Homo sapiens: one gene and its partners. The protein of the gene in region 2 purifies or fractionates together with the protein of the main gene of each other region. This does not show direct contact. Each region holds a gene or a part of one and is shown on either strand. Other genes may lie near its edges.

The links.
Region 1: the proteins of MIOS (region 2) and FKBP15 purify together in Homo sapiens (affinity purification with mass spectrometry, with the first as the bait; one large-scale study listed by BioGRID). This does not show direct contact.
Region 3: the proteins of MIOS (region 2) and CHM purify together in Homo sapiens (co-immunoprecipitation; one large-scale study listed by IntAct). This does not show direct contact.
Region 4: the proteins of MIOS (region 2) and DEPDC5 purify together in Homo sapiens (affinity purification with western blotting; 3 studies listed by BioGRID and IntAct, with this or other methods). This does not show direct contact.
Region 5: the proteins of MIOS (region 2) and SUPT5H purify together in Homo sapiens (affinity purification with mass spectrometry, with the first as the bait; one large-scale study listed by BioGRID). This does not show direct contact.
Region 6: the proteins of MIOS (region 2) and CCT3 purify together in Homo sapiens (co-immunoprecipitation; one large-scale study listed by IntAct). This does not show direct contact.

Annotation. Positions count from the first base shown.
Region 1 is NC_000009.12:113,172,778-113,176,277, forward strand, and holds part of FKBP15 (FK506-binding protein 15), read right to left. Parts: intron 1,807-3,500; coding exon 1,651-1,806; intron 829-1,650; coding exon 676-828; intron 1-675. UniProt on the Homo sapiens protein: May be involved in the cytoskeletal organization of neuronal growth cones. Seems to be inactive as a PPIase. Involved in the transport of early endosomes at the level of transition between microfilament-based and microtubule-based movement.
Region 2 is NC_000007.14:7,573,384-7,576,883, forward strand, and holds part of MIOS (GATOR2 complex protein MIOS), read left to right. Parts: coding exon 1-386; intron 387-714; coding exon 715-813; intron 814-3,500. UniProt on the Homo sapiens protein: As a component of the GATOR2 complex, functions as an activator of the amino acid-sensing branch of the mTORC1 signaling pathway. The GATOR2 complex indirectly activates mTORC1 through the inhibition of the GATOR1 subcomplex.
Region 3 is NC_000023.11:85,957,059-85,960,558, reverse strand, and holds part of CHM (rab proteins geranylgeranyltransferase component A 1), read left to right. Parts: intron 1-1,581; coding exon 1,582-1,698; intron 1,699-2,583; coding exon 2,584-2,704; intron 2,705-3,500. UniProt on the Homo sapiens protein: Substrate-binding subunit of the Rab geranylgeranyltransferase (GGTase) complex.
Region 4 is NC_000022.11:31,760,519-31,764,018, forward strand, and holds part of DEPDC5 (GATOR1 complex protein DEPDC5), read left to right. Parts: intron 1-137; coding exon 138-184; intron 185-3,500. UniProt on the Homo sapiens protein: As a component of the GATOR1 complex functions as an inhibitor of the amino acid-sensing branch of the mTORC1 pathway.
Region 5 is NC_000019.10:39,466,082-39,469,581, reverse strand, and holds part of SUPT5H (transcription elongation factor SPT5), read right to left. Parts: intron 3,103-3,500; coding exon 3,013-3,102; intron 2,908-3,012; coding exon 2,837-2,907; intron 1,361-2,836; exon of another isoform or gene 1,289-1,360; intron 827-1,288; coding exon 721-826; intron 504-720; coding exon 410-503; intron 321-409; coding exon 184-320; intron 1-183. UniProt on the Homo sapiens protein: Component of the DRB sensitivity-inducing factor complex (DSIF complex), which regulates mRNA processing and transcription elongation by RNA polymerase II.
Region 6 is NC_000001.11:156,321,293-156,324,792, reverse strand, and holds part of CCT3 (T-complex protein 1 subunit gamma), read left to right. Parts: intron 1-3,500. UniProt on the Homo sapiens protein: Component of the chaperonin-containing T-complex (TRiC), a molecular chaperone complex that assists the folding of actin, tubulin and other proteins upon ATP hydrolysis.

The DNA of each region.
Region 1 (3,500 bases), on a different chromosome or scaffold from region 2:
TTGCCTCCAAGATCTCTGAGCCAAAAGTTTTCAACTGGACACTTTAAGGAAAGAAACTGACCTCGAATATGGACTTTCACACCATGACCCTAAGCCATGTCCCATCTCTCTTTTTCAGGCCTGATGATCCCACCACACCCCAGCCTCCATCCTATCTCAGTGCCTTTGCCCAGGATGTTCTGCCTCCTTTGCTGCCTTACCAAAGCTATTTGTCCTTCTTGGCTCTGCTCAAATGTCACCACCTTTGGGAAACCTTCCCAGCTCTCCTGGGTACTTCCTCTTCTGGGCCCCATAGCACTTAACACCTATCTTTGTTTCTTTGTCTCCCTTTCTTGACTGTGAGATACATGAGGGAAGGGTTCCTTGTATGCACTTCCTTTAACACACTGGATGGAATACAACTGACTCTCAATAAATATTTGCTTAATAAATGAAGGATCCAATAATAATGGGAAACATGTTCCGGAACACTAGTGCTGTTTTCTCTTTTTCCAGGTCACTGACCTATCACCCCACATAAGTATGTGAAAGATAACTGACAAGCTAAACAAGTGTGGTTTTGTCTTCTAGATATTAATAACTTTCAGGCTTAGAAGGATCGACAGGACTCAAACAGCCTGCTTGCCTCAAATTAACTGGGCTGCCTAAACTGTCTGACTCAAGAAAAATATGTACCTTTTCCTGAAGTTGTACCAGCTTCTGCTGGTAGGCATCTCTCTGTGCGCACACCTCCTGGTACTGCTGCAGGTGCTCATCCTTGGCGGAGGCCAACAAATGTTCACATTTTGCTTCCCACTGGGTCTGTAGCTCAGCCTGTACTAAAGACAGCTGCCAAGAGAAAGTAATGACCATATCATCCTTGGGGGTGGGGGAGTGAGATTCCATTGCACCTAGGGAAACCCATCTTTCAAAAAGCAAAAGAATAAGCTAACAGCCCAGATTTAACTGGGAAACTGTTTAAAAGACTCATTACTTTTAAAATAAATGCACTTCTTAAGATGTCATTGGTTGTCAGGACTCCAAAAGGTACTCCAAGCAGACAAAAGTGTGCCTATCTAGATAGGTCCCTGGAGGGCAGGGCCATGTGATCACTGCTTTTCAGGGTCTGAACCCTAAACTTTATAGGTTCAGAAACTTTTTTTCACCAAAATTCCCAGAGGTGGTCAAATTGAGGGCACCAATGCACTCTAATTAAACAAATGTATGCATATAAATTTTAAGCTTATAATGAGAAAGGTTGCTGTTGCACAGACTAGAGATCCAGCTGTGTCCTGCCACTATCCCTGGTTCCCTTCCTGATGACCTAAATCAATCCCTTCTTTTCAAGGATGATAATGTGCCTGAAGGATGGTGTCCAATGGTTGATGGTTTTGGCCTTACCATGTTTGGAATTTTTTTTGTAAGGAAACTATTTTTCATTTTTACTTATGTAATTAAATATTAACTAAGCTTTAAAAAAAGAAAGAAGATTCTCCATTTGATTCCTGGCTCTCCTGCACATATCTGGATTACTTTTTCTACCTTTCTCCAAAGTGAGAGTATCAGCTATGAGAAATGTCATCCTAAAGGGTAAGGAAGAAACCAGAAGCTTTTCTCTCTGAGTCCTTCACACCTTCCCTCTATTTTCAAAGTGCTTCAGTTTCCCATTACCTGCTCTGCAGCTGCTTGGTCTGTGGACACTCGAGTCTTTTTCAAGAGCTGTCGAAGTTTGTCCAATTCCTCCTGGTATGACTTGCGAATTTCATCTATCTCCTCCTCGGCCTGAGAACGCTCTTGAGCTGACTTCTTTTTCCTTTCTGAGAGGTTCTTAGGAACAAGAGAACCATCATCAGCTCTAGCTTGTTAACAGAGAATAAAGAGGGATGATGGCGGTGGCAGTTAATTACCTTGTGGAATCCTTACTCCATTTCTGAAAACTCCATTTTTTAGTTGAATTTTCCCCTAAATATTTAACATTCTTGGCTACTGGGTGAGGAAAATGGTGACAGGAGAAGGAAAACAAGAAGAGCTGTATCTACCCCTCTATTAAGAGCTAGGGAAATTGGGAGGCCGAGGCGGGCGGATCACGAGGTCAGGAGATCGAGACCATCCCGGCTAAAACGGTGAAACCCCGTCTCTACTAAAAAATACAAAAAATTAGCCGGGCGTAGTGGCGGGCGCCTGTAGTCCCAGCTACTTGGGAGGCTGAGGCAGGAGAATGGCATGAACCCGGGAGGCGGAGCTTGCAGTGAGCCGAGATCCCGCCACTGCACTCCATCCTGGGCGACAGAGCGAGACTCCGCCTCAGAAAAAAAAAAAAAAAAAAAAAAAAAAAAAAAAAAAAAGAGCTAGGGAACATCCTAACTTTAATAAAGGTACAGGAAATCAGACATTCTCATACCCTGATAGTAAGAAAACGAATGGATATACTCTCTTTGGATAGTAATCCTGTGAAAAGCCTTTAAAAACATACGTATCCAGAAATTCCACAAATTGTAATTAAGGATTCAATAAGTCATAGTCATAAAGAGTGTGTTACAAGGATGGTCACTGTAGTAGTATCTATAGTAATGACAAACTGAAAACAGCCAAGAGGTTAGAAGGAATTGGTTAAAAATAAATAAATAAAATGGAAAAAATCCTGGAAAAAAATGCAATTGCAGACCAAGATTTACCCTCTTAAAAGGCACTGGGCCAAAACAGCTTTACCTAATGAGATTTACTGAAGCCTCAGGAGCAGTTTATTATTTTCATATTTAAACGATTCCAGAACAGACAAAAAGATAGAAATGTTCTCACTTTGTTCACTTAGTATTTCCTGATATTAAAATTTTAACCAACAAAAGATACTATAAATAAAGTTAAAAGACAGCAAGCTAGAAAAATATTTACAACATCTATGACTGACAAAGGATTGATACCCTTAAAAGGGTTTACAAATCAAACTAATAATAGGAAAAAGGATAAAGGACACTAAAGAGAGAATGTACATAAGAAATACAAATAGGTATTAAATATATGAAAGCTTTACTACTAATAAAAATACACATTAAAACAAGATAACATATTTCACCTGTCAGACTAATGAAGATTAGAAAAAGTGATATATGTAGAGTGGGGAAGAATGTGACAAATGGGCTCACTCACATACTGCTGAAAGTGTAAGCACTATTCTTTGAGGATAACCTGGTAATATTTATAAAAATTCAAATATGTAGCCTTCCCTTTGATCCCATGATTCTTACTCATGCAATCCATCACGTAGGAATGCTCAAACAAATTTGCAAAAACAGTTATATAATATGAGAATGTCCATAGAAGCAGTGCTTAAAATAATGAAAAAATAAAAACATAAATATCCATCGATAGGCAAATCATTAAACAAATTATGGTACAGCCTCATAGTAGGCTACTATGCAGCAGTTAACTACGAGTGAGAAAGATCTCCTTCTTATGTAGTACAAGTCCATGACATTTTCCTAAAAAACATTAAACGTGATACCACTACTGTAAAAAAAGTT
Region 2 (3,500 bases):
TCCCATTGGGGATGAAACTGAACCCACAATAATTGAAAGAAGTGTGCAACCTTGTGACAATTACATTGCTTCCTTTGCGTGGCATCCAACAAGTCAAAATCGAATGATAGTTGTAACTCCCAACCGAACAATGTCAGACTTCACTGTTTTTGAAAGGATATCTCTTGCCTGGAGCCCAATTACATCTTTAATGTGGGCTTGTGGTCGTCATTTATATGAATGTACGGAAGAAGAAAATGATAATTCTTTAGAAAAAGATATAGCAACGAAGATGCGTCTTCGGGCTTTATCAAGGTATGGACTTGATACAGAGCAGGTGTGGAGGAACCACATTTTAGCTGGAAATGAAGATCCACAGCTCAAGTCACTCTGGTATACTCTGCACTATATCCTTTTCATTGTGAATTTTGTGAGGTGAATCAGGTAGAAATGTTCTTGAAGTTTGCCAAAAGGTCAGTCTGTAAATATGCTCAATGTTTTATATACAAATACAAGTTACATAATACTAACATTATAAAGTAAAATTGTTCTAAACTTTCGAACTTGAAATACTGCTTTGTAGATTGTGTAGGAGGAAGAAAAGTGTATCTCTGCAATAGAGTCGAACCACCTTATTTACACTGATACTTATTATGAATTGGCTCCAAATCAAAATAAATTTAGCTTTGAAATATATTGTCATGCATCACTAGTATTTCCTATGCATTTAAATACTTATGAAGCAATACACAGAAGATATGGATCAGAAATCTCCAGGCAACAAAGGATCATTGGTTTATGCAGGAATTAAATCAATTGTAAAGTCATCGTTGGGTAAGAAAATTCTATTTCATTTTCTCCAATATGTTTATAACTTTTGTACTTTTATTTTGCCCCCTGTCATTTGGCAGAAATTATCTAGTTATTTCAGGATCATGTACATAATTTTTTTTGTTTTCTGATTGGATATTTCATTGTATTGTTGAGTTAAATGCATACTTGTATTTATATCCAAAACCCTTTTTGCAGGGAGTCTTAATTCTCTGAAGTGATGTTGATCTTCTTAAATCTATCCACACGTTTATTCAATGTTATTTTTTTGAAAACCCACTTTGAGAGGTTTTACACTAGACAATTTACAGATTACTGATTGTTAGTTCAGGTTTTATCGCAACATTTTGCTTCTTAAAAACTAAAAAGATCTCTAATTGAAGGAGATCCCTTTTTATTTTGCTCCTCAAATACTTTCATTGAGCCATCTAACAGCAAGGAGTATGATATGAAATATGGCCTAACGTGGAGGAATTATACCTGATATAGTCCTTGGTTAATTAGTGAATGAATTAATTAACGTGTGAGTTAATGTAGGATTGAAAATTGGTATGGTAAACTATTAAAGAATAAAAGTGACAAAAACCAAACTTTTTTTTTTTTCTGACTGCTTTAAACAGTTGTTCCTATTCTTTTACTGGAATTGAATAATGGGTTATATTAGAATTGCAGGTTGAGTATACCTTATCCAAAATGGCTTGGGACCAAAAATGTTTCAGATACTTTCAGATTTTGAAATATTTGCGTTATATACTTAGAGATTGACCATCCCTATTCTGAAATCCAAAATGCTCCGATGAGCATTTCCTTTGAATATCATCTCAGCACTTAGAAAGTTTCAGATTTTGAAGCCTTTTGGACTTCAGTTTTCAGATTTGGGATGCTCACCCTGTATCTCTGTGATCTAGGATTCGTTCTCTAACTTTTGGTAAGTCAAATTTGGGCCCAAGTCAAGCTGTTAGAAAAGTAGTTAACATTATTTAGTCAAAGAGCAGTAATAGAAGTAGTAAATCCAATTTGATTTTTTACGGAGCTTGTATCAGTACCATACAAACAAAATACAAAATAATAAAATATTTTAGAGTAGGTTAAGTGTTTTAATTAAACTGTTACATTATAGTGTTTTTTTAACGTCTTTCAAATTACTTTGGTTCACTTTACTGAAAGATGCAGTAGACTACTTACTGATCAGTTTGATTTTATTGTTTTTGTATTAGCCCTCCACCAAAAAAAGTAACCTTTATTATAAATAGTAAAATGAATAAGTTTAGTTAGAAGCTGCTGTTTTTATTAACATAGGTAAAAGGGCACACATACTGTTTTACTCCCACAAATGAACCTGGTACCATGGTTCAAGATTTTAGAGCCATTGCCTATTGCTACAAAGAATTAAACACCAAGTTTATAGAATTTATAGTGTTTTAGCTATATAGTAGATCAGGCCACACTGCACTCAATTATTTAGAGGTTGGTTATTGTGTTTTTTGTATTTTGATATATTTTAAGGAAAAGCCAGCATCTGAGGAAAAGCAAAAGGGGAAAATGTAATATGTTTATGTTTCTGGTGCACTAGAGACAAACTGAGTATCCCACCCCTGTGTCAAAATAGTCTCTACCCAGACTAAAGAAACACTACTGTTGGAAAGATTTCCTCATTCATCATTCTCTCATTGCTAGGTTTTCAGCTTTTTTTTTTTTGTTTGGTATAGATATTTTTGTTTCTACTACCCAAAGGTGAAAAGTAGAGAAATACTGTCAAATATGCCACTCTTAGATTTCAGTCTTCTGTTTTATTTGGCCATACCTTTTCCTCTAATTGTATCTCTAATAATCAACACATGGTAAGTCAACACATTGAGCCATCTTGTCCACAGTAACCTAATACACAAGTTTATTAGAGCATACAGCTAAATTTTAATTTTGGTAACAAATAGTATATATATAAGTGCTTGCTATGAATTAGTTGCTTTTCCCATGTTACTTTAATTTTTACAACTACAATATGAAGTAAGCTCATTCATTCAGCAAGTATTTATTACCTACATGCATGCTATATGCCAGGAGTTATCCTAGGAACTAGAGACATAACTCTCAAGAAGATACATAAATCTCTTCCCTCATGGAGATTGAGCAGGATCAATGTCATCCCTGCTCTTGAGGAGTTTATATTCTAGTTTAGAATATAGACAAGTAAGCTGGCAGTTATAACATAGGGAAGAACAGACAGTTAATTACAGGAAGGACTCCTAATCTGGTTGCAGGGATTAGAGGTTTCTCAGAGGAGGTACAGTTAAAGACAAGGTCCAGACAGGGAGCAGCATGTGCAGTGGACCCAGAGGGTAGAGAGCATAGCACATTATTATGGCTGAAACAGAGCATGAGAGAGGAAGTGAGGAAAGAATGGAGGCTAGAAAGGTAAGCAGTGGGCTAACTCAAGAAAGACTTAGAAATCATGTTAAGAATTTAGGGAGATTCATCTTGTAAGACGGGGAAACAGATGGATTTGTGACAGATTTGTGTTTTAAAAGGATCAAGATTGATAGTAGGGATATCAGATAGAAGCCTGCTGCAAGGAGGCAAGACGTGATGCTATCCTTACCAAGGTTAGTAGCAGAGGAGCTAGAGAAATGTGGATACATTAGAGAATAGGAGAAAATTTAATGATTAATTAGATAAAGGGGTGGAGAAGA
Region 3 (3,500 bases), on a different chromosome or scaffold from region 2:
CCAGCTACTCGGGAGGCTGAGGCAGGAGAATCGCTTGAACCTAGGAGACAGAGGTTGCAGTGAGCTGAGATTGAGCCACTGCACTCCAGCCTGAGCAGCAGAGAGACTCTGTCTCAATAAAAAAAAAAGAAAAAGAGGCTTAGATTCTGATATGTACACATTTATTATTTGTGAGCTTCAGAAACAAAAATCTAGTATAATTTTAATTGAAATTTGTTTTTGTTCTTGTGATATCTTAAATGCATTATTTTTCAAGCTGGCATTAAACCTTAAGGTTTATTGGATCTTATTAAATAAAAATGCAGTTTCATATTTTATATCTTAATGTTTGTGACATTATTATGGCTATGCAGGGATCCTTGAGTCTCAAATGTGTATCTTTTTAAACAAGTGATTTTTGAAGTAACTATTTTTTATCATTATTATAGAGTTAAGAATTGGCAATATATTCTTTAAAACATGGTCTCTTTCAGTAATGTAGTGTGTTAGGAAGAGGGTAATGAAGTAACGTGCCATATTTAATCAGGATGATCAGATTAGCTTCAAAAAAGTGATGTCAATTTTGTTTTGCAGAATGCTGAACTATTAGTTTATAAAATTTTACTTGAATGGTATTGATTTACTGATAGTCTTTACTGACTTATTAGTTGCTCAGACTAATGGTTTAGATTGATTTTTGAGATTCCTTTTTCTTTGTATAGTAAAGCTAATTTTCCCATTTATTTATTATAGATGTAACATTCATTTTTAATATTTATTGAGTTATAGGCATTAAGAGTATCTTAATATAGGAAATAGTCAAATCTGTTGCATTTAACCATACGGTTAACATGCTAGATAATACTGTTTACATTATTGATTTTATCTCTCTGATATTACTTATGAGATGTTGAAAGATTAAATCAATTTCTCCCATACATGCCAGCAATAATCATCATCTTCACTTTTTGAGAAAGACATATCTCATATAAACCCAGACTTCTAGAATTACAGAAGTACCTTATAATTTGACTTTTTCAGTGTAAATGCATCACAAATATTTTTTTCTTTTTTTGATGGGGTAGGGAGGTTCACTGGACTGATTTCTTCTTATAACTACCTGGCTTTGTGTAAGACTATAGATTCTTATCCAAAACCCTCAGGGCCTGGTGTATTCTATCATTAAGATTAAAAAAATATATTTTAGAAAGTAATGAAGTACATATACTGATATGTTATATGTTAGGTTAAATTATTAGCAGGGTCTGAGGAGGAACTCTAACTAAACACATTATTTCTGCAGTGAAATATATGAATATTTATGTTAATTTGGACAAACAAAGCCAGAGTGCCTTATCAGTATGGATCAGGTTTTGCTGCTAAACATGTTTTGTAAAAACTTATGGATTGCAAAGTTTTTTGAATTTTGAATTTCAGCTAATCAATTCTGAGCCTGTAATAGATTGTGTTATGTATTATAATATTTATAGGTATGATTGTTTCTACAAATAATAAAAAATATAGCAAAATTATGTATCTTTATTGTTTTCCAATTTTTCTACTATTTCAACTTTTATCTTGTAAAATATTTTCTTTGTACAGCTGCTGTATTCTCGAGGATTACTAATTGATCTTCTAATCAAATCTAATGTTAGTCGATATGCAGAGTTTAAAAATATTACCAGGATTCTTGCATTTCGAGAAGGACGAGTGGAACAGGTACTGTGCTGATCAAGAATTGTAACTGGGCATCAGCTTAAGTTATTATGGTTTGTTTTGGAAAGATAAGCAAATAAGATTGTTATTTTCCTCATAAAGCAGTAAATTCCAGTCCTCCGTGGTGATTTACAAATGTAAATGCTTAATTAAAATTTCTAGTGCTAATTTTCTCATGGCTTACTCTGCAGCTTGGTGTTGGTACCAAGCAGCACACAAAAAACCAAAAAGCACACCAGAGTTACTATACCCAAGACTAGTCACACAAATCCTTTTCTCCCATTAATCAAGATTTTGGAGAGGGAAAAGAAAGAAACGGTGATTTTTGCTGTCCACTTGATCAGATTCCACACAGAGGAGGAGGCCCGGAGCCTGGTTGGGAAAAAATTCTTACCCTTATGACAGCTGATCAGATCCTGGGTTCTTCACTGCAGCTTCCAGAAGAGCAGAGCTTTGCTATCCTGCTCACAGCACCAAAACTGTAGGGGCCAAGGGAAACACTCCCTCTTAAGCCTCTGAAGTTTCACTGAAAAATCAACTCACAAAGGCAGATTAATTGGAGAAAAGGCATAAAAATGTACTAACATGTACATAGGGAGAACCACAGTGTTTGTTTTAGATAGCACTGCTAAATTTTTCTCTGTTAGGATGACATGCCGTTGGCCTTTTAATGGCATGGGGAGTAACTTGGCAGAATTAAGTAAGAAAGCTCACAATTAGCTCTGAAGTTAGCAGAGATGCCATTAGTACTGATGGACGGTGATGTGAAAAAGCCTGGCTAGAGTGGAAACGATAATCCTGTTATATGTAAAGGGGAAAAAAGTGTAATTTGGAATAGTTATATCATTAGGAAGCAGTTTCTTAACTTAAAATCATAATATTTTTCAGGTTCCGTGTTCCAGAGCAGATGTCTTTAATAGCAAACAACTTACTATGGTAGAAAAGCGAATGCTAATGAAATTTCTTACATTTTGTATGGAATATGAGAAATATCCTGATGAATATAAAGGTATTTTTTTCATTAAGTAGTGCTCTCCAATTATTTGACATTTCTTACTATTTTAATATGCTTGCTCTGATTTAGTGAGCCACTTATTACTGTTTTAAAATGCATTCTAACTCTGCACTATCAATAGGTTAGCCATTAGTAACATTTAGCTATTTAAATTTAAATTAATTAAAGTGAAATAAAATAAAATAAATTCAGTTTCTCAGTCTTATTAGCTGTATTTCAAGGGCTCCCATAGCCCCATGTGGCTACAGTGCAGATATTTTCATTGCTGAAGTGGCATGCTAGATTTTAATTTTTATTCTTATTATTTAAATACTACTGTCAACTGGCTCTTCATAGATGATAATCTGTTTTCATGATTCCATTATTTTTTCTCATAAGTAAAAATACTATATATTTTATCATTTTCCAGGATTGCTTTTGCATAGAATCTTGAACTATTTCGTTTGAAAAAAAAAGGCTAGATGGTATATGGGGAAAAATACTGGATTCAGAAAAGGCATGGTTTCTATTCTTGGCTTTGACCTATTTCATTATGTGATCTGGGGCCAGTTACTTCATTGTCTGTTAAAAATTGAATATGCCATTTTAGTGTCAGAGCTATATACTTTAAGTCCATTGGTCTGAAAATGTTATCCAAAATTGGAATATACTATTGATAATTTATTTATAAAGTTACAATGAGAAGTGCAGCGATATTTTTTTTCCTCTGTGAAATAATGAAAGTCTAATCCTTGCTCTTAAAGCTTCAAGTCTACTAGGTACTGTCATGTTGTTATCCACAGTGGCTGTG
Region 4 (3,500 bases), on a different chromosome or scaffold from region 2:
TGAGGGAGCTTTCTCCCGTTGTTGTGCTGTAAGTCACAGAATGGCCAGAGTGACCTATTTGCCTTTTGTCGGGGATGAAGGTTGCTAGGGAGTTACTGTTCACGGTATCCCAACTCTCTTGTTGCTTTCTTTTTCAGCCCTCTGCTTTTGCAGGTCAAGTCTCTTAAGGAAGATTTACAGAAGGGTAAGAATTATATCACTCTTCTTAGAATTTTTTATTTACTGCCTCAGAAACTGTAAGAAATCTCTCTTCATAATTTCAAGGGATGAGGGCAAGTAATTCTCTTCTTTTTTAAACAAATTTTAATTTAACTTTCAATTCAGGCAGTACATGGGAATGTTTGTTACATGGGTATATTGTGTACTGGTGGGGATTGGGCTTCTATTGTATCCATTACACAGTGAACCTTGTATCTGACAGAACAGATACAGATAAAGAATGTTGTATCTGTGTCTTAACATTGTTTTTTTTTTTTTTTCTGAGACAGTGTCTTGTTCTGTCACCCAGGTTGGAGTGCAGTGGCGCGATCTCGGCTCACTGCAAGCTCCGCCTCCTGGGTTCACACCATTCTCCTCCCTCAGCCTCCCAAGTAGCTGGGACTACAGGCACCTGCCACCACGCCTGGCTAATTTTTTGTATTTTTAGTAGACACGAGGTTTCACCGTGTTAGCCAGGATGGTCTCAATCTCCTGACTTCATGATCCTCCTGCCTTGGCCCCCCAAAGTGCTGGGATTACAGGCGTGAGCCACCACACCCAGCCTGAACATTGTATTTTTCAACCTTCATTCTCTTCCCTGTCCTTGTTTTTGGAGTCCCAAGTGTCTATTATTTCCATCCCACTTATAGGTAAGAACATGCAGTATTTGGTTTTCTGTTTGTGAGTTAGTTCACTTAGGATAATGGTGGCCTCCAACTCCATCCATGTTGCTGCAGTGGACATGATTCCATTTTTTTATGACTGTAGTTCTCTTCTTATCAAACTATGTTGCCACTAAAAAAAAAATTGTAAAGTGACGCTTATAGTCCTAGCTACTCTGGAGGCTGAGGTGGAAGGATCATTGGGTCCCAAGAGTTTGAGGTTTCAATGAGCTATAACGGTGCCACCGCAGTCTAGCCTGGTCAACAGAGCAAGACCCTATCTCAAAAAAAAAAAAAAAAAAAAATAGGCCAGGCACGGTGGCTTATGCCTGTAATCCTGGGAGTTTGGGCGGCTGAGGCAGGCGGATTGCCTGAGCTCAGGAGTTTGCGACCAGCCTGGGCAAAACGGTGAAACCCTGTCTCTACTAAAATACAAAATATTAGCCGGGTGTGGTGGCATGCACCTATAATCCTAGCTACCCTGGAGGCCGAGGTAGGAGAATTACTTGAACCCGGGAGGCGGAGGTTGCAGTGAGCCGAGGTCACGCCACTGCACTCCAGCCTGGGCGACAGAGCGAGACTCCGGCTCAAAAAAAAAAAAAAAAAAAAAATACACAACCTGCCTGTTGCCCAGGTTGGTCTTGAACTCCTGGCCTCAAGTGGAGTTCCTGACACCTTGACCTCCCAAAGTGCTAAGATTGCAGGTGTGATCCACCACATCTGTCCCATTTTTTCACAAACTATTTGTTAAATGCCTACTCTGGGTGAGTAGGGATTGGGGAGGAAGAAATATATATTGATGATCGCCCACCACATTGTGCAAGGTACTATCCTGGGAGCTTTGTGTAATCTAGCATTATCTTCCCAACAACTCTTGAGTGAGTGAGGAAGTTTATTATCTGCCGGACTATACAGTCTAGGCGTAGCCAGAAGCAGTGATTCCTGCTTACTTATTCTGGATTCAAATCCTTTCTTTTTCCCTCTAATGGCTATGCCATGCTGTTCAAGGAACCAAAATGTTAATTGAAAGTAAATAAGATACTCTTTTAAATAGTTCTTAAGAGAAAAAAACAAAATTCTGGGTTGCTCTAAAGGGCTTTGATGGCTGGGTGCAGTGGCTGACGCCTGTAATCCCAACACTTTGGGAGGCTGAAGTAGGTGGATCACCTGAGGTCAGGAGTTTGAGACCAGCCTGACCAACATGGTAAAACCCCGTCTCTACTAAAAATATAAAATTAGCCAGGCATTGTGGCGCATGCCTGTAATCTCAGCTACTCGGGAAGCTGAGGCAGGAGAATTGCTTGAATCTGGGAGGCAGAAGTTGTGGTGAGCTGAGATCACGCCATTGCACTCCAGCCTGGGCAACAAGAACAAAACTCTGTCTCTAAATAAATAAATAAATAAAATAAAGGGCTTTGATGTCACCCACTCTTTCTTTTTTTTTAAAGAGATGGCGTCTCACTCTGTTGCCCAGGCTGGAGTCTGGAGTGCAGTCTCACAATCTTGGCTGACTGCAACCTGCGCCTCCTGGGTTCAAGTGATTCTCCTGCCTCAGCCTCCCAGGTAGTTAGGACTACAGGCGTGCACCACCATGCCTGGCTAATTTTTATATTTATATTTTTATTTTTTTGAGATGGAGTCTCACTCTGTCACCCAGGCTGGAACGCAATGACATGGTCTCAGCTCACTGCAACCTCCGCCTCCTGGATTCAAGGGATTCTCCTGCCTCAGCCTCCTCAGTAGCTGGGATTACAGGTGCACGCCACCACACCTGGCTAATTTTTGTATTTTTAGTGGAGACAGGGTTTCACTATGTTGTCCAGGCTAGTCTCGAACTGCTGACCTCGTGATCCGCCCTCCTCGGCCTCCCAAAGTGCTGGGATTACAGACATGAGCCACCATGCCCGGCCTAATTTTTATATATTTAGTAGAGATGGGGTTTCACCATGTTGGCCAGGCTGGTCTCAAATTCCTCACCCCAGGTGATCTGCCTGCCTCAACCTCCCAAAGTCCTGGGATTACAGGCGTGAGCCACTGCACCATTGCCCCTGCCTTTTTTTTTTTTCTTTTTCCCTTTCAGACAGGGCCTCTCTCTGTTGTCCAGACTGGAGTGCAGTGGTGCAGTCACGGCTCACTGCAGCCTCAACCTCCCTGGGTGCAAATGATTCTCCATCTCCCACCTCCGCCTCCCGAGTAGCTAAGACCCCAGACGCCCAGCCCACAGGATCATGCCTGGCTAATTTTTTTTTTTTTAATTTTTGCTCAGGCTGGTCTTGAACTCCTGGGCCCAAGCAGTCCTCATGCCTTGGCCTCCTAAAGTGCTAGGATTACAGGCATGAGTCACCATGCCTGGCTATCCACTCATATTTAACAATTCAATATTTCAATTTGAGGAGAAAACATTCTATAAAACCTGGCTACTCTGGTTACGCTGCCTATGGGTTATCCCTGCTCTGCAAGGAGCAGTAAAAAAAAAATTTAAAGTTTTCATTTTTATTGTTATGTTGTGTGGTGTTATGTTTTTTATGTTATGTTATGTTATGTTTGTTATGTTATGTTATGTTATTTTGAGATGGAGTATCCCTCTGTCGCCCAGGCTGGAGTGCAGTGGTGTGATTTTGGCTCACTGCAACTTCCACC
Region 5 (3,500 bases), on a different chromosome or scaffold from region 2:
TGCTGCCCACCGACCCTGAGCTGCACTCAGACAGAGCCTCTCAGGCACCTGAGAATGCTAGAAGGGCCTCAACTTACCCTCCTGGAAACCAGGTGTCACCAGGCACACCACCGCCTCGACAGCCACATACAGTCAGATGTGCCTGAACACTCCAACCCCTGCCCGAGAACACCGGGCACCCACCTTGAGGTCCTCATGCTTGGGCATGATGGTGATCTTGTTGCCATCCACGCTGAGGATCTTGCCCTGCAGGTTGATGAGCTCACCCTCACAGACCTCCACGTTGTCCCCAGGTTGGAAGTTGTGCTCCCGCTCCTTCCCTGCAGGGGCAGTCGTAGGGCTGACTCGGGGGTTGCCACCATGGGCCGCCCCTGCTCCTTGGCCCAGGTTATAGAGGGGGATCAAATACCTGTGCTCTCAGTCACCACCTCCAGGTCAATGCCCTCTGGCTGGTCCTCAAACTTTTCCAGCTCAGAGAGTGTTGGCTTCACACCCTCCGTGATCTAAGCCCCCAGCGGTGAGGGGAAGAGAAGGAAATGGACCGAGGTCAGTGCAACAGCCCAGCTGAGTGGGCTGAGTGGGTCCTAGGGGAATAATTCTCCTAGGGAACACTCCTAACTTGAGGAGTGGGACAGAACCAGATAACCCACAGCCCAGGGCATCACCTGCAGGAGAACACTCACACCACCCCCATTACCAACACCCCTCTGGGACCCTCACCACAGCAGACATGGCGAAGCTCTTGAACAGAAAGCCCTTCCGGCTGTAACGGTTCCCCTCAAAGATGAGGAAGTCACCATCAGAGGCAACATCACCCCCCAGGGACCTGGAATTTGATGGGGGAGAGAAGATTAGAAGGGAGAGTCAAGAAGAAAATCTTGCTGTACCTCAGTCTTCTCAGCTGGCAACAGAAGGAGAGGACCACAGGCAGACTGACCCATCCCATCCCAGCACACACCCTCTTGGCAGCAGTGACTTCTCACAAACCCCAAAGGCCCGCCTCCCACCTCCCTGCACTCCTCCACCCATTCCCTGATTTATCTTTGAGCACCGATCACCATCTGACAATCTAGTGTTTGACCTGTCCCCCTAACTAGCATGTCAGCTCCAGAAGGTCAGGGATGTAACATTCACTAAATTTCACCAAGAATAGTGCCCAGTACACAGAAAGTATGCAGTAAACATTAGCTGAACAAAATAACAGTTTCAGACAATGATACCAGTGAATATTCGCAGAGCGCTCAGCCTGGCCTGCACACTCATGACCTCACAGGCTCTTCCCCAAATCTGTGGCATCAGTAACTGCTCATCATTTCCAGGTGAGGGAATGCAGGCTCAGGAAGGTCACATCACATGCCCAAGGGTGCCAAGCCACAGTCTTGACAGGATTCAAAAGCAGGCAGGTGGGACTCCCAAGCCTGCAGCTCCCGGCCCCAAATGTGGAGTGGCGGCCGCTTAGTGCCTGTTCCGAGTCTCCGGGGTGGGGAAGGAGCCTCCTTCATGGAGGAGCAGGTCAAGTTCCTCCTGCGCTCATGCAATCGCCTTCTCCCATGGTGAATCTGGGAGAGGGGCCAGCATGCTCTGCTGGGCATGCTGGGGTACTTGGTCAGCTGGCTTGCTGGGGGGTAAGGGAGCACTAGGGTTTGTTCTTTGCAAAGAGAGGTTCAGGTGAGTCGAAACCAGTGGTATAAATGGGTCCGAACTCAGGCAGGTGAAGTATTAGCAAGGCCCTTGGGTGCAGACTCAAAGGTGCATTCCACAGCTCTTCCTTTATCTGAAGGAAAACCTGACTGGCTGAATCACACACAATTAGTTCTAGAACAGGACCAGAGGGAAGAGTGTCACTGGCACCTCTCGTTTCTCCATGTCCTCCTCTCCTGCCCTCCCTGCCGGAGCCCCCAGTTGGCCCTGGGATGTTGAAATTCCTGGGCTGCTCCAATTCTCTACCCAGCTAGGGAGTCTGGGGGGCATCCTGAGGGAAAGGCACTCCATACCCCCCCATCTCAAGTGGGCATAAGCAGATCAGGAAAGGAGACTTTCTAAAGCCTGACATAGTCCATGAATCCCATTTCAATATATCACACCATGGATCACACTTACTACGTGCCAAGGGCATTCTGAGTACATATGCATACTAATTTATTTAATTCTCACTATAATCTATAATCTGAGGAAGCAGAGGTTGTTTTCTTTTTTTTTGAGACGGAGTCTCGCTCTGTCACCCAGGCTGGAGTGCAGTGGCACGATCTCGGCTCACTGCAATTTCTGCCTCGTGGGTTTAAGCGATTCTCCTGCCTCAGCCTCCCAAGTAGCTTGGATTACAGGAGCTGACCACAACCCTTGGCTAATTTTTGTATTTTTAGTAGAGACAAGGTTTCACCATGTTGGCCAGGCTGGTCTTGAACTCCTGACCTCAAGTGATCCGCCCGCCTCGGCCTCCCAAAGCGCTGGGATTATAGGTGTGAGCCATCACGCCCAGCCTCATCAATCTTTTTAAATATTTTTTTAACTTTTTTCTTTTTATTATTATTATTATTTTAAAAGATGGGATCTCATTATGTTGCCCAGGCTGGTCTCGAACTCCTTGCCTCAAGCAAGCCTCCTGCCTTAGCCTTCCAAAGTGCTCCCTCCCGCTGCGCCCAGCCTCATCAATCTTTATAGCAGAAGAAACTGAGGCACAGGGATGTGAAGTGACTTGCCTGAGGCTATACTGCCAAGCTAACCAATTCACAGGCTAAACCTGTGGCGGGGCCACCCCTGGGGAGGAACCTGCAAAAGGCACATTCTACACACCGGCCCTGGGGACCCAGCCCAGCCAGTCCCCAAGGACACGCACCTGATCTTCTCAGCATCAAACAGCCTCTGTGGAGGCCGCTTAAACTTCTTCCTTTTGGCAAACCAGTCTTTCTATGGAGGAAAGGGGCATGGGTGGGAAGGGTGAGGGAGGGGGCTTGGCCACCAGTGGGATCGAGCACACTCCCTCCCCCCCAGGCCACAGATTCCCCTGAGTACCAAGCTCATGCGGGCCTTGATGCGATCGTAGTCGATGCGTGGGATCATCTTCAGGGAGATGGTGTTCTGGCTGGGCTCCACGTAGTCCACCTGAGCAGGGCGAGCAGAAGGTCAGCAGGGCCCCACTCTCCTCCCTGACCCCAGACACAAGAAGGGTCAGGAGATGCTAGGAAGGAGAAGGGACGCAGGATGGTGGGGAAGAAACCAGGCTGCTGACCACTCCCAAAAGTCCCACGCTAGCTTGTCTGTCCCCTCAACTCTGGCACTGAGTAGCCACTGCCTGCTTGGTATCTCCACCTGGATGTCTAAAGGTCCCTCAAATCCAGGACGACCGCAGCCAAACCGCTGATTCCCCCAAACCTGCCGCCTCCCACTCCATTCTTCCCTCTGCTCAGGCACACAACCTGGGAGCCACTCTTGACTCCTTTGTTTCTCTTACACCCACACCCGACCCGTTGGCAAATTCCATCAGCTCTGCCTTCAAAATA
Region 6 (3,500 bases), on a different chromosome or scaffold from region 2:
AGTTGGGCATGGTGGCGCATGCGTGTCGTCCCAGCTACTTGGGAGGCTGAGGCAGGAGAATTGCCTGAACCAGGGAGTCAGAGGTTGCAGTGAGCTGAGATGGCCCCACTGTGCTCCAGCCTGGTGACAGAGCAAGACTCCGTCTCAAAAAAAATCAGCTGGGTATGGTGGCGCACACCTGTAATGCCAGCTACTCAGGAGGATGAGGCAGAAAAATTGCTTGAAACCAGGGGGCGGAGATTGCAGTGAGCCAAGATCTCTCCACTGCACTCCAACCTGAGCAACAAGAGCGAAACTCCCATCTCAGAAGAAAAAAAAGAAAAGCATATATTACCTCTAGCTTCAGGGAATTTTAGTTAAGGTTTAACATCACGTAGAGTCATGTAGAGCAGTGTCTTGAATAAAAATTTTTGTTTAAAAAGTAAAACCTGGCAGGGCTCGGTGGCTCACGCCTGTAATCCCATCACTTTGGCCCAGGTGGGTGGATCACGAGGTCAGGAGTTAGAGACCAGCCTGGCCAACATGGTGAAACCTCGTCTCTACTAAAAGTACAGAAAATTAGCTGGGCATGGTGGCAGGCGCCTGTAATCCCAGCTATTCAGGAGGCTGAGGCAGGAGAATCGCTTGGACCCGGGAGGCGAAGGTTTCAGTGAGCCGAGATTGTGCCACTGCACTCCAGCCTGGGTGACAGAGTGAGACTCTGTCTCAAAAAAATAAAAAGTAAGACTTGGGCTGGGCATGGTGGCTCACACCTGTAATCCTAGCACTTTGGGAGGCCAAGGCGGGTGGATCACCTGAGGTCAGGAGTTCAAGACCAGCCTGGCCAAGATGGTGAAACCTCATTTCTACTAAAAATGCAAAAATTAGCCAGGTGTGGTTGCATGCGCCTGTAATCCCAGCTACTCGGGGGGCTGAAGCAGGAGAATCACTTGAACCCGGGAGGCGGAGTTTGTGGTGAGCCAGGATCGCACCATTGCACTCCAGCCTGGGCGAACAACAAAACTCCATCTCAAAAAAAATAAAAATAGGGCTGGGTGCGGTGGCTCACGTCTGTAATCCCAGCACTTTGGGAGGCGGAGGCGGGCGGATCACGAGGTCAGGAGATTGAGACCATCCTGGCTAACATGGTGAAACCCCATCTCTACTAAAAATACAAAAAAATAAGCCGGGCGTGGTGGCAGGTGCCTATAGTCCCAGCTACTTGGGAGGCTGAGGCAGGAGAATGGCATGAACCCGGGAGGCAGAGCTTGCAGTGAGCAGAGATTGCACCACTGCACTCCAGGCTGGGCGACAGAGCGAGACTCCATCTCAAAAATAAATAAATAAAAATAAAAATGTATATTTTTTCCACGCCCAACTGGAAATAGTTTTTTTTTTCTTTATTTAAATATTCTACTCATATGGTTGAGTCACTAGATGCATAAGTGTTTAGTAATTTGGTGAGGTTTATATTATACTGCCTGCTCTTTTTTTTTTTTCTTGAGACGGAGTTTTTGTACTTGTTGCCCAGTCTGGAGTGCAATGAATGGCGCGATCTCGGCTCACTGCAACCTCCACCTCCCAGGTTCAAGTGATTATCCTGCCTCAGACTCTCGAGTAGCTGGGATTACAGGCATGTGCATCCACATCCGGCTAATTTTGTATTTTTAGTAGAGACAGGGTTTCTCCATGTTGGTCAGGCTGGTCTCAAACTTTCAACCTCAGGTGATCCACCCACCTTGACCTCCCGAAGTGCTGGGATTACAGGCGTGAGCCACCGCGCCTGGCCATATACTGCCTGCTCTTAAACAAGTTGTACATTAATATCTTTGTCTGGCACACTTAAGAATGAGGTGTTTGATCTAATTATTTTTATGCAGTAAGCTCTGTGAGAATGTAGAGGTACCCAAAGGTTTTATTGTGTGGAGCTTCACGCTTAGAAAGCCTTTTTTTTGAGACGGAGTTTCACTCTTGTTGCTCAGGCTGGAATGCAATAGCTGGATCTCAGCTCACTACAACCTCTGCTCCCTGGCTTCAAGCAGTTTTCCTGCCTCAGCCTCCCGAGTAGCTGGGATTATAGGCATGTGCCACTACGCCTGGCTAATTTTGTATTTTTAGTAGAGACGGAGTTTTTCTCCACATTGGTCAGGCTGGTCTCAAACTCCCGACCTCAGGTGATCCGCCTGCCTCGGCCTCCCAAGGTGCTGGGATTACAGGCGTGAGCCACCGTGCCTGGCCTGAAATATTTTTTTTTTTTAATCAAGTAATAACTGCCTACCTAGAACACTTTAATCTTATTAAAAAAATTTTTTTGGGGTGGCGGGGGGTCTCGCTCTGTTTTCCAGGCTGGAGTGTGCAGTGGCATGATCTCGGCTCACTGCAACCTCCGCCTCTTCGGTTCAAGCAATTCTGTCTCAGCCTCCCAAGTAGCTGGGACTACAGGCGCATACCACCACACCTAGCTAATTTTGGTATTTTTAGTAGAGATGGGGTTTCACCATATTGGTGAAGCTGGTCTCAAACTCCTGACCTCAGGTGATCCTACCACCTCGGCCTCCCAAAAAAATTATTTTTTAGAGATATGGTCTCACTCTGTTGCCTAAGCTGGAGTGCGGTGGTGCAGTCACAGCTTACTGCAGCTTCCAGCTCCTGGGCTCAAGCAATCCTGCCCCAGCTTCCCAAGTAGCTAGGACTATAGGTATGTCCACCACGCCCTGCTAAATTTTTCATAGAGATGAGGTTTTGCTATGTTGCCCAGGTTGGTTTTTAACTCTGGGCTTCCAGCTATCCTCAGTCTTCCAAAGTGTTGGGTTTACAGGCGTGAAGCATGGCACCCAGCCCCCTTTATCTTAGATACCATTTTTGGAGTCATTGCTTCTTCCCAAAAGTCCATAATTCAACCATTTAATAATTGGTATATTATGTGCCTTTCACTGTTAAAAGAGGGATTTTGTTTATTTTGGGGTTTTTTTGAGACGGAATCTCACTCTGTCACCCAGGCTGTCGTGCAGTGACATGATCTCAGGTCACTGCAACCTCTGCCTCTGGAGTAACTGGGACTACAGGCACATGCCACCACTCCTGGCTAATTTTTGTATTTTTAATAGAGATGGGGTTTCACCATATTGGCCAGGCTGGTCTCGAACTCCTGACCTCAAGTGATCTGCCCGCCTTGGCCTCCCAAAGTGCTGGGATTACAGGCGTGAGCCACCGTGCACAGCCAAAAAAGAGATTTTAGCATTATGTGAAAATATCTTGTGAGGAGTGAAAGTAATATAAAAATGGTAAATACATAAAATGTGTTTACAGTAACATAAAAACACAAAGATGACCAGTTGGTGGTCATCTTTGACCACTGTGACACACCATGAGCTAAAAATAAAATTTGCTGTTCAAATGAATGATTTGATAAAACTCTTAAAGTTGGCTAGTTATGGGATAAAGTTTCATAAAAAAAAATGTGTCTTGACCTGAGTTGTAAAAGTTGAAAAGTTTACTTGGTTGAAGCAGAAGATAAGGAA